2 separate regions of the Homo sapiens genome follow, and region 1 is linked to region 2. The links come from fine-mapping of genetic effects on gene expression. Tissue or cell type: pancreas. Region 2 holds a variant in brackets; the other region holds the start of a gene. All regions are shown on one strand. Distances are from middle to middle. Region 1 holds the start of RRP36 (ribosomal RNA processing 36). Region 2 holds the start of LOC124901318 (a long non-coding RNA gene).

The links. PIP is the estimated chance that this variant, and not a neighbour inherited with it, causes the effect. A credible set is the group of variants that fine-mapping cannot tell apart.
Region 1: RRP36 starts here. The variant in region 2 is the best candidate, but not a certain one, in a credible set for the expression of RRP36 in pancreas (GTEx, PIP 0.65).

What each region holds. Positions count from the first base shown.
Region 1 is chr6:43,019,253-43,024,618 of GRCh38, reverse strand. RRP36 (ribosomal RNA processing 36) reads right to left here and starts at 2,996. Exons shown (of 7, transcript NM_033112.4): 1 at 2,835-2,996. The coding sequence starts at 2,964. It overlaps KLHDC3 (kelch domain containing 3), which reads right to left. Exons shown (of 11, transcript NM_057161.4): 10 at 5,253-5,331; 11 at 3,325-3,952. The coding sequence ends at 3,886. RefSeq lists enhancers at 1,981-2,712, 3,095-3,144, 3,205-3,314, 2,713-3,444 and silencers at 2,795-2,864, 2,875-2,924, 2,935-3,004.
Region 2 is chr6:43,040,962-43,046,327 of GRCh38, reverse strand. CUL7 (cullin 7) reads left to right here. Exons shown (of 26, transcript NM_014780.5): 12 at 1-92; 13 at 237-342; 14 at 646-741; 15 at 926-1,101; 16 at 1,443-1,576; 17 at 2,698-2,880; 18 at 3,148-3,254; 19 at 3,344-3,526; 20 at 5,253-5,366. It overlaps LOC124901318 (a long non-coding RNA gene), which reads right to left and starts at 5,292. Exons shown (of 2, transcript XR_007059581.1): 1 at 5,204-5,292; 2 at 1,182-3,270. RefSeq lists a silencer at 316-507. The variant G/A (reference allele first, on the strand shown) is at 2,333.

The DNA of each region.
Region 1 (5,366 bases), 22 kb after region 2:
TCTCACCTCAATCAGTGCTCTAGCCTCCTAGTCTCCCAACCACCAGCCTCACTCCTCTCAAAGCTATGCGCCTCAATTCAGCCTGAGAGAGGCATCGAAAATAAAATCAGATCTTATCACTCCCACACATAAACTTCAGATCATGTTACTCCTACAGGCAAAAGTCCCCAATGGCTTCCATCTTGCTCACAGTAAAAGCCATGTACCTTAATAATGGCCTGCAAGCCCCCAAGTGACCTGGCCCCTGTCATATCTCTACTCTACTCATCTCCTTCTCACTCCTCTCAATGTGTCTCCTAGCAGCATATTCCCACCTCAGTTCCTCTGCACATGTTGCCTCTGCTTGGTACACTTCCCCCAGAAACTGTACATAGGTACAGCTCCTCCCTCAGTTCCTTCAAGCCTTTATTCAAAATCACCTTCCCAAAGAGGTCTTCTCTAAGTTATTTAAAATTGCGACCCCTCGTCCAGGTGTGGTGGCTCACGCCTGTAATCCCAGCACTTTGGGAGGCTGAGGCAGATCAATCACCTGAGGTCAGGAGTTTAAGACCAGCCCGGTCAACATGGTGAAACCGTCTCTACAAAAATACAAAAATTAGCTGGGCATGATGGCAGGTGCCTGTAATCCCAGCTACTCGGGAGGCTGAGGCGGGAGAAGAGCTTGAACCTGGGAGGCAGAGGATGCAGTGAGCCGAGATCACGTCACTGCACTCCAGCCTGGGTGACAGAGCGAGACTCCATCTCGGAAAAAAAAAAAAAATGCAACCTCTCCTAAGCTTTATTTTTTCTCCATATCCTCTATCACCTTAAAAAAAATTGAGCTATAATTCATATTCCACAAAATCCAGTTCTCTAGTCTACAATTCAGTGTTTTATTGCCTTTTAATGTAATAATTTACTTGTCTCCCTTAAATTTTACTTATTTATTTTGAGCTGGACTCACTCTGTCACGAGGCTGGAGTGCAGTGGCGCGATCTCGGCTCACTGCAACCTCCGCCTCCCAGGTTCAAGCGATTCTCCTGCCTCAGCCTCCTCAGTAGCTGGGACTAAGGCACGCACCACCAAGTCCAGCTGATTATTGTATTTTTAATAAGGACGAGTTTCACCATGTTGGCCCAGATGGTCTTGATCTCCTGACCTTGTGATCCGCCCACCTCGGCCTCCCAAAGTGCTGGGATTACAGGCATGAGCCACACCTGGACTTAAATTTTATTTATTTTGAAAAAAGGTCTTGCTCTGTTGCCCAGGCTGGAGTGCAGTGGCCTAATCACTGCTCACTGCAGCCTCGACCTCCTGGGCTCAAACTATCCTCATGCCTCAGCCTCCTCAGTGGCTGGGAATACAGACGTGGGCCACCACCCTGGCTAAATTTTTTTATTTTTAGTAGAAAAGCGGGTCTCATTATGTTTACCAGGCTGGTCTTGAACTCCTGGGCTCAAGCGATCCTCCTGCTTCAGTCTCCCCTGGTGCTGGGATTACAGGTGTGATCCACCACACCCGGCCAGGATAGGAGTGTTTGACTACTTTATTCACAACTATCTCCAGCAGCTAGAACTGTGCCTTAACAAAAAGCCTGCAGCATTTGCTGGGCACAGTAATCCTGTAATCCTTGGGAGGCTGAGGCGGGTGGATCACTTGAGCCCAGGAACTGGAGACCAGCCCTGGCACCTGGTAACATGATGAGACCTGGCTGGGCGAGGTGGCTCACGCCTGTAATCCCAGCACTTTGGGAGGCCGAGGCGGGCGGATCACGAGGTCAGGAGATAGAGACCATCCTGGCTAACACGGTGAAACCCCATCTCTACTAAAAATACAAAAAATTAGCCGGGCGTGGTGGCGGGCGCCTGTAGTCCCACTACTCGGGAGGCTGAGGCAGGAGAATGGCGTAAACACGGGAGGCGGAGCTTGCAGTGAGCTGAGATCGCGCTACTGCACTCCAGCATGGGCAACAGAGCGAGACGCCGTCAAAAAAAAAAAAAAAAAAAAGGTGAGACCTTGTTTCTACATTAAATAAATAAATAAATAAATAAACAAACCCATCCGTGCAGGCGTGGTGACGCGCCTGCAGTCCCAGCTACTCGAAAGGCTGAGGTAGGAGGATCTCTTGGGCCCGGGAGTTCGAGGCCGCAGTGAGCCGTCATGGTGCAACTACACTCCAGCCTGGGCTACAGGGCGAGACTTTGTCTCAAAAAAATAAAAAATATAAAAAATTTAAAAAACAGGCTGGGCGCAGTGGCTCACGCCTGGAATCCCAGCACTTTGGGAGGCTGAGGCGGGCGGATCACGAGGTCAGGAGATCGAGACCATCCTGGCTAACAAGGTGAGACCCCGTCTCTACTAAAAATACAAAAAATTAGCCGGGCGTGGTGGCGGGCGCCTGTAGTCCCAGCTGCTCTGGAGGCTGAGGCAGCAGAATGGCGTGAACCCGGGAGGCGGAGCTTGCCGACATCGCGCCACTGCACTCCAGCCTTGGCGACAGAGAGAGACTCCGTCTCAAAAAAAAAAAATTAAAAAAACAAAGTCTACGGAATCTGCTGAATTCTGATCTACTAAGCCTTCAGCAGCCATGCATGCCTTTTCCTGCCTCCATGCTATTGCACATACGTTCCCCATCGCCGAAAACCCTCATCCTGCCGTGAAGAAACTTCTCAGGATGTCCTAATCCCGGAAGCATCTACTCTCACCCCCCACTTTCCACTGCACTGGGGGCACCCCTAGTGTAGCGTCTGCCTCTTAGAGAACTTGGCAGTCTTACCGGCACCGTCTCTGCAGGCTCAGGGCCCCGCCTGGGAATCTCCTTCCCCTCCCCAGCCCGCCCTGCCCCATGCCCTCACCCCTCAATAGGTCGCGGGCCACGGCCGCGGGCTCCAGGCCCCCGCCGTCCTCCTCGCGGTCCCGGGCCCCGCGGGGACGTCGGGCCCCGGCCCCGGCCCCGGCCCCGGCGCGGTAGTTAGCTCCCGGCATCAGCTGGCAGTAGCGCTCGGAAGACGAATGGCGCCGCTTCCGCTCACGGCAGCCCCTGCCCCGCCTCTTCCGGCGTTCCCGGTCTCAACGTGGTGACGAATGGGCAGAAAACTGCGCGGTCGAGGGCCAGGGAGCCGGGCCCAAAGGATAACCCGCTCTGGAGACATTGTCGCAACCTTCTGCCCGAGTCGCAGGGTGCTGGGTTCCACGCCCGAGAAGCTTGGACCAGGCCTTGGTGGCATTTGGTTTCCTAATACCCTTGGCTGAGAAGCCAGAACCTCAGGGTGCTTGTCCTCGGCACCCTGCCCCCACTGCAAACTCCAGCCTTCTCCACCATATTCCACAAAAACACACAACACGTTTGGAGATTTTAATTAATTTTTATAAAATCTGAGCTGGCTGAACTTCAGAGTACAGCGACAGCTCAAGGAAGGGTGGGATTTATCTGCTGGTCCCCACCTCCCCAAGACGGGGAGAAGGAGGTCTCATGCCAACAGCTGCAACTCCTTTCAGCTCCCAGTCAAGGCTCAAGGCTCAAGCAGAGGGGAGGGGATAGGCAAAGGGGGAGGGGGAAGCTCCTGAGGCTCAGACACTGCTTGCTTCTCCCTTCTCCCCATTCCCTTCCCTTCCCAGCAGAACCTGGCTGGCCCTGGGCAGAGCTGAGGCCCAGGAGCAGCTGAAAGGAGGTGGATGGGGACAGAGCACCAAGGGGAAGGGGCCCTCGGCCCAAGGGGGGAGGAACCTAGCCCCCACCCCGCTACAGCTCCCCACTGAATTCACAGCACAGAGAACACCTCTCGCCCAACAACTCCACATGGAGGTATACCAAGTCCAGGGGTCAAAGGAGCAGGTGGGTGACAGATGGGCAGGGGCAGTGAAGATGACAGCAGGCTCAGGAGGGGAGGTGGCAGAAACTTCCTCCTACCCATGGGAGGAGACGATGGGGCGACTGATATTGCTGTTGGTGGTCATGGCATTCAGCTCCCACCTGGAAGGCCAACAATAAGAGACAGAAAGAAGAGGGGGCCCTCAGCCCAAGCTAAGGGATGTTTGAACCAAGCTAAAAACACACCAGTCTCTCCAACTTCCTAAAGGTCAACCACCCACAGCCACCTCTTACTTAAGAGACCTACTAGGTTGAACAATCAGAACCCACCCACCACCAAATCCAACACCACCCACTCCTCTACCTCCAAGCTCATATGGATTTCCGGTTTATGTTTATGTATGTATGTATATTGCAGTGTCCAGGCACCTGAGATCTGTGTATACATGTCAGTCAACATCCCAACCTGCCTTTCCTGCTTTGCTTAGAGCCAACCAGGCAGCCCCTCCACCTTACCCTCACCAGGAATGCCTCACCCCACCAGGAATACCCATTTTTGCTCTTAACTCCCATCCTTTTAAGGCTCTGACTCAGCACTCCTATCCTTCCTGAGGCCTTCCCCACCCACCCAACCATATTAATTTTTTTTTTGAGTCTTGTTCTGTCACCTAGGCTGGAGTACAGTGGTGCAGTGGCACAATCTTGACTCACTGAAACCCCCGCCTCCCGGGTTCAAGCAATTCTCTTGCCTCAACCTCCCAAGTAGCTGGGACTACTGGTGGCTGCCACTATGCCCAGCTAATTTTTGTATTTTTAGTATAGACAGGGCTTCACCATGTGGCCAGGATGGTCTCGAACTCCTGACCTCAACTGATTTGCCCACCTCAACCTCCCGAAGTGATGGGATTACAGGTATGAGCCACCATGCCCAGCCAGCAAGAGTTAAACTGAACTGATACAAAGAGACGAAGTATCTCAGAATGACCCAGACAGGAAAAATTATATACAAAGTAACATCTGGTGGTTAATTTGAACCTGAAAAATTATACATAAAGTAACATCTGGTGGTTAATTGGAACCTAAGAACGAAATTCAAAGGGAAGCAGCCAGATCTTCTGGAACCAATGTGATCCAGAGGCTCCTAAACTTGTCTTTACTTTGCAGCTAGGTTCTAAGATTTAATCAGTTGTTCTCAGCATGGTCACAAAAATAACTGTATAAGCTTAGGTCTCAGAAAGTGATGCTGCCGAGCTGTATTTTTTTTTCATATAATTTATTCTGCTGACAGTTTTATATGATGGCTGTCAATTCACCTCCTTCCATCTCATTTCCCACAAGTACACTACATCTCCAGCAGAACAAAAATGTCTGTCTCCTCCATACTGAAACCAAGCTAATCAGGTCACACCTGTGCTGCTCACTCACCCTCACTCAATCCCTCCCTTCCAACCACTCGCTGTACCTGATATCATGAGGCAAACAGGACTGGTCTAGGTTATACTGAATCACGGCCAGTTTGCACAGAGTCTTCAGACTAGGGCCTTTAAGGGAGAAGTTGTGGAAAGGAGATGGTCAA
Region 2 (5,366 bases):
ACGGACCACAACCCCAAGACCTATTGGGAGTCCAACGGCAGCGCCGGCTCCCACTACATCACCCTGCACATGCGCCGGGGCATCCTCATCAGGTAACTCTCCCACACATGTGCTTTGCCACACACGTGTGCTTTCCTGTGACGCCCCTGTGTTTGTTTTGGGGGAAGCACCACCCCCTGGACTTGGCCATGGGCCCTGTCTACAAGTTCCAAATGGTTTTTCCTCCCCACTCCCAGGCAACTGACTCTGCTTGTGGCTAGTGAGGACTCGAGTTACATGCCGGCCCGAGTGGTGGTGTGCGGGGGTGATAGCACTAGCTCTCTTCACACGGAACTCAACTCGGTAGGACCCCAGGGCCATTAGCCATTACTCCACCCCTCACAGGATCTGCCCTCCTGCTTCTATCTGGCCCTATCCTACTTTTTTCTAACTCCCACCTGTCTTGAGCCCCACAGAAAGTAGTGTCCTTTATCCCTGTGCTTGTGCCACCAGGCCCTGAACAATGAGGGTGGCATGAGGACAGCTTTGTCAGGACCCTACACATCCCAGGGCTGGGGAAGGGAGGGAAACAGTGAGGGGACTGGAGCCTAGAGCCAACTTGGCTCTGCATGTGTGGAGGTGACAGCTTTCTCTGCCCCCTGCCAGGTGAATGTGATGCCCTCTGCCAGCCGGGTGATCCTCCTGGAGAACCTGACCCGCTTCTGGCCCATCATCCAGATCCGCATAAAGCGCTGCCAGCAGGTGGGGCCAGGGATGTGGGGTGTGGCCCTGGGTAGGGGGCTCTGAGCCCCATAAACAGGCAGATCTTAAGCCAGAGGACCAGCCTGGGTCTCGAGCAGCTCCAGGGGTGAGGTTCGAGGGCGTAGCTGACCCCAGCCCATCCCAAGGTGTGGAGCGAGTGAAGATAGTCCTGTGTGTGTTTCAGGGTGGCATTGATACGCGCATTCGGGGGTTAGAGATCCTAGGCCCCAAGCCCACGTTCTGGCCAGTGTTCCGGGAGCAGCTCTGTCGTCACACACGCCTCTTCTACATGGTTCGGGCACAGGCCTGGAGCCAGGACATGGCAGAGGACCGCAGGAGCCTCCTGCACCTGAGTTCTAGGTGTGTGAGAGTGTGCGTGTATGCTTGTGTCTGTGGGAAAGGTAAGGCTATTGCAAATAGCTGGCAGGCAGGGGTCCATAGAAGCTGTGAGATGGAGGTTTAATATGCGTGGGGAGGGGGCTGGAGTTTTCTGAGCTGTGGGAGGGGAAGAAAGGATAAAGAGAAAAGATTTCTCCAGTGGGCTGGGAATGGGATATACCAGTTAGCACAGAGCAGTTCTGAAGTACCAGGGGGCCTTCGGTTTGGGTGCTGGGGTTAGCTGGCAGTCTTAGGAAGGGTGGACACTGAGATAACATATGCTTCAAGCCCCTGACACCTTCCTCCTCCATTCTCACCCCCAGACTCAACGGTGCTCTGCGCCAGGAGCAGAATTTTGCTGACCGCTTCCTCCCTGATGACGAGGCTGCCCAAGCTCTGGGCAAGACCTGCTGGGAGGCCCTGGTCAGCCCCGTGGTGCAGAACATCACCTCCCCTGGTAACCATCCTGACATCTGGACCCATTACTATCTCAGGGCTTGGTTCCACTAATTAGTTCCTTCTTGCTCTACCCTAGAACCACCTGGATTATGTCCTGGCCCTTTTGGCACCTGCATTTGTAATCCCAGTGCTGTCTTCTCACAGCCCAGGGGCTGCCCCCTTTCCCATGTCTCTCAAGTGTCAGGGGACACCATAAGTGCTGGAGGTGCCTTGTTACCCACTCCCTTTATCATTCTTCTTTTTTTTTTTTTTGAGACAGATTTTCGCTCGTTACCCACGCTGGAGTGCAATGGCATGATCTTGGCTCACTGCAACCTCTGCCTCCCAGGTTCAGGCAATTCTCCTGCCTCAGCCTCCCAAGTAGCTGGGATTACAGGCATGCACCACCATGCCTGGCTAATTTTATTTTATTTTATTTTATTTTTTTGAGACAGAGTTTCGCTCTTGTTGCCTAGACTGGAGTGCAATGGCGCAGTCTCGGCTCACTGCAACCTCTGCCTCCAGGGTTCAAGTGATTCTTCTGCCTCACCCTCCCAAATAGCTGGGATTACAGGCATGGGCCACCATGCCCAGCTAATTTTGTATTTTTAGTAGAGATGGGGTTTCTCCATGTTGGTCAGGCTGGTCTCGAACTCCCAATCTCAGGTGATCCACCCGCCTCAGTCTCCCAAAGTGCTGGGATTACAGGCATGAGCCACCGCGCCTGACCCACACCTGGCTAATTTTATATTTTTAGTAGAGGTGGGGTTTCTCC[G/A]TGTTGGTCAGGCTGATCTCGAACTCCCGACCTCAGGTGATCCACCCACCTCAGCCTCCCAAAGTGCTGGGATTACAGGCATGAGCCACCGCACCTGGCCTTTTCTATTTTTTTATGCTTATTTCTTATTTTTAAAGATGGGGTCCTGCTATGTTGACCAGGCCAGTCTTGAACTCCTGCCTCAAGCGATCCTCTCATCTCAGCCTCCCAAAGTGCTGGGATTACAGGCGTAAACCACCCTACCTGGCCCCCCTTCCTTGTATCATTCCGTCCAGTTGCTCTATCTCCACACTCCTGTTCAGCCCAACCACTCCCACTTCCCTGCAGACATGGCTGTGCCTTGGTTTGTTTATCTCACCCTCTAGATGAGGATGGCATTAGCCCCCTGGGTTGGCTGCTGGACCAGTACCTGGAGTGTCAGGAAGCTGTCTTCAACCCCCAGAGCCGCGGCCCAGCTTTCTTCTCGCGGGTGCGCCGTCTCACTCACCTGCTGGTGCATGTCGAGCCCTGTGAGGCACCCCCTCCTGTGGTGGCCACTCCTCGGCCCAGTGAGTAGTGGAGATTCAGGTGGGGAGCTCTAGTCAGGAGCGTTTTCCTGGGCCCCATGTGTACACCACAGGCTTCTGTCCATCCCCATCCTTCCCCTCCCTATGGGCTCAGCCTGTTCATCTTCCAGGTTTGTGTCACCTCCATCCATGAACATCATTTTGGGTGGCAGCATGTCAGGAAAGGCCTCAGGGAACCCCCTTGGATGGGGACTTGGGAGTGGAGGGGCTGCACCCTCCTTGCCTCTGCCACTTTCTTGGTCTCTACAGAAGGCAGAAACAGAAGCCACGACTGGAGCTCCTTGGCTACCCGGGGCCTTCCAAGCAGCATCATGAGAAACCTGACGCGCTGTTGGCGGGCCGTGGTGGAGAAGCAGGTGGGCAGGAGCAGGCCTGCGGGAGAGAGGGGACACCATAATGGTGGCATGTTGGGTTGTGTCTTCATGCTCCTGCCCCTTCCTTCCAGGTGAACAATTTTCTGACCTCATCCTGGCGGGATGATGACTTTGTGCCACGCTACTGTGAGCACTTTAATATTCTGCAGAACTCAAGCTCTGAACTGTTTGGGCCTCGGGCAGCCTTCTTGCTGGCGCTGCAAAATGGCTGTGCGGGAGCCTTGCTGAAGCTCCCTTTTCTCAAAGCTGCCCACGTAAGCCTCTACCCTTGCCTCATCCTTGGGTCTCTTCCGACAAACTCTCCCTTCCTCACCTCCTCCAAATGACCCACCCTTCCATTCCCATTCTATGATGAACATATGTTAGTATATAGCCATGTTATAAGAAGTTTAAAAAATTGAAAAAAATAAATAGTGGCCAGGTGTGGTGGCTCATGCCTGTAATCCCAGCACTTTGGGAGGCCGAGGCAGGCAGATCATCTGAGGGCAGGAGTTTGAGGCCAGCCTGGCCAACATGGCCAAACCCCATCTCTACTAAAAATACAAAAATTAGCCAGGCATGGTGGCACATGCCTGTATTCCCAGCTACTTGGGAGGCTGAGGCAGGAGAATCGTTTGAACCCAGGAAGTGGAGGTTGCAGTTGCAGTCAGCCGAGATTGCACCACTGCACTCCAGCCTGCGTGACAGAGCTAGACTCATCTCAAAAAAAAGAAAAAAACAAAAAAACCCCCCACAATTGATGAGCTAAAATGCAAGAAGCACCCTGGAAAGCAGGGTACAGAGCAGCAGGAACATGAGGCTCCTTGTGTAGCCTCCAGTCCTAGTTTATCAGTGACACTGCATCAGGACCATCTTTGTGTATGTAACTTACCTCCTTGTGTCCGTCTTTCTTTCTCTCTCTCTTTCTCCCTTCCTGCCTTCCTTCCTTCCTTCCTTCCCTCCTTCCCTCCTTCCCTCCCTCCTTCTCTCCCTCCCTCCCTCCTTCTCTTTCTCTCTTTCTCTTTCTTTCCTTCTCTCTTTCTTTCTTCTTCCTTTTTTTTTTTTTTTTTTTTGAGACGGAGTCTCGCTCTGTTGCCCAGGCTGGAGTGCAGTGGCTCGATCTCAGCTCACCACAACCTCCGCCTCCCAGGTTCAAGCGATTCTCCTGCCTCAACCTCCCAAGTAGCTGGGATTACAGGTGCATGCTACCACGCCCAGCCAATTTTTGTATTTTTAGTAGAGACGGAGTTTCACCACATTGGTCAGGCTGGTCTCGAACTCCTGACCTCGTGATCCGCCCGCCTCACCCTCCCAAAGTGTTGGGATTACAGGCATGAGCCACCTCTCCCTTCCCTTCCCTTTCCCTTCCCTTCCCCTTCCCTTCCCTTCCCCTTCCTTTCCCTTCCCTTCCCTCCCCTCTTTTCCTCTCCTTTCTTTTTCTTTCTCTCCCTTTCTTTCTCTTTCTTTACTTCTTTCTTAACAGGGTCTTACTCCCTCCCACACTGGGATGCAGTGGTGCAGTCACAGCTCACTGCGGCCTCAACCTCTTGGGCTCAGGTGGTCCTCTCAGCCTTCTGGGTAGCTGGGACCATAGGCGTGTGCCACCATGCCCAGCTAATTTTTTCGTATTTTTAGTAGAGATGGGGTTTTGCCATGTTGCCCAGGCTGGTCTCCAACTCCTGGGTTCAAGCCATCTGCCTGTCTCAGCCTCCCAAAGTGCTGGAATTACAGGCGTGAACTGCGCCTGGTCTTATTTTCTCATTTTGAATGATTATTATTAGTTTGATTTTTTAGACACAATGTGAAAAGACACTTTCCATAATTGTTAATATTGCTAATTTGTACAATGGTTAATGATCTTATAAAATAGTTGTATGAAAGCACCAACCACCTTAGAAAGCTGCCAGCATTCATATCTACTTTCCAGACCCTCATCCCTCCTCCCCACTCACCTGCTCTGCTCGCTCATTCATGGCTTTCCTGTGCTCTGCCATTGCTCAGGTGAGTGAGCAGTTCGCCCGGCACATTGACCAGCAGATCCAGGGCAGCCGGATCGGTGGAGCCCAGGAAATGGAGAGGCTGGCACAGCTGCAGCAATGCCTGCAAGCTGTCCTG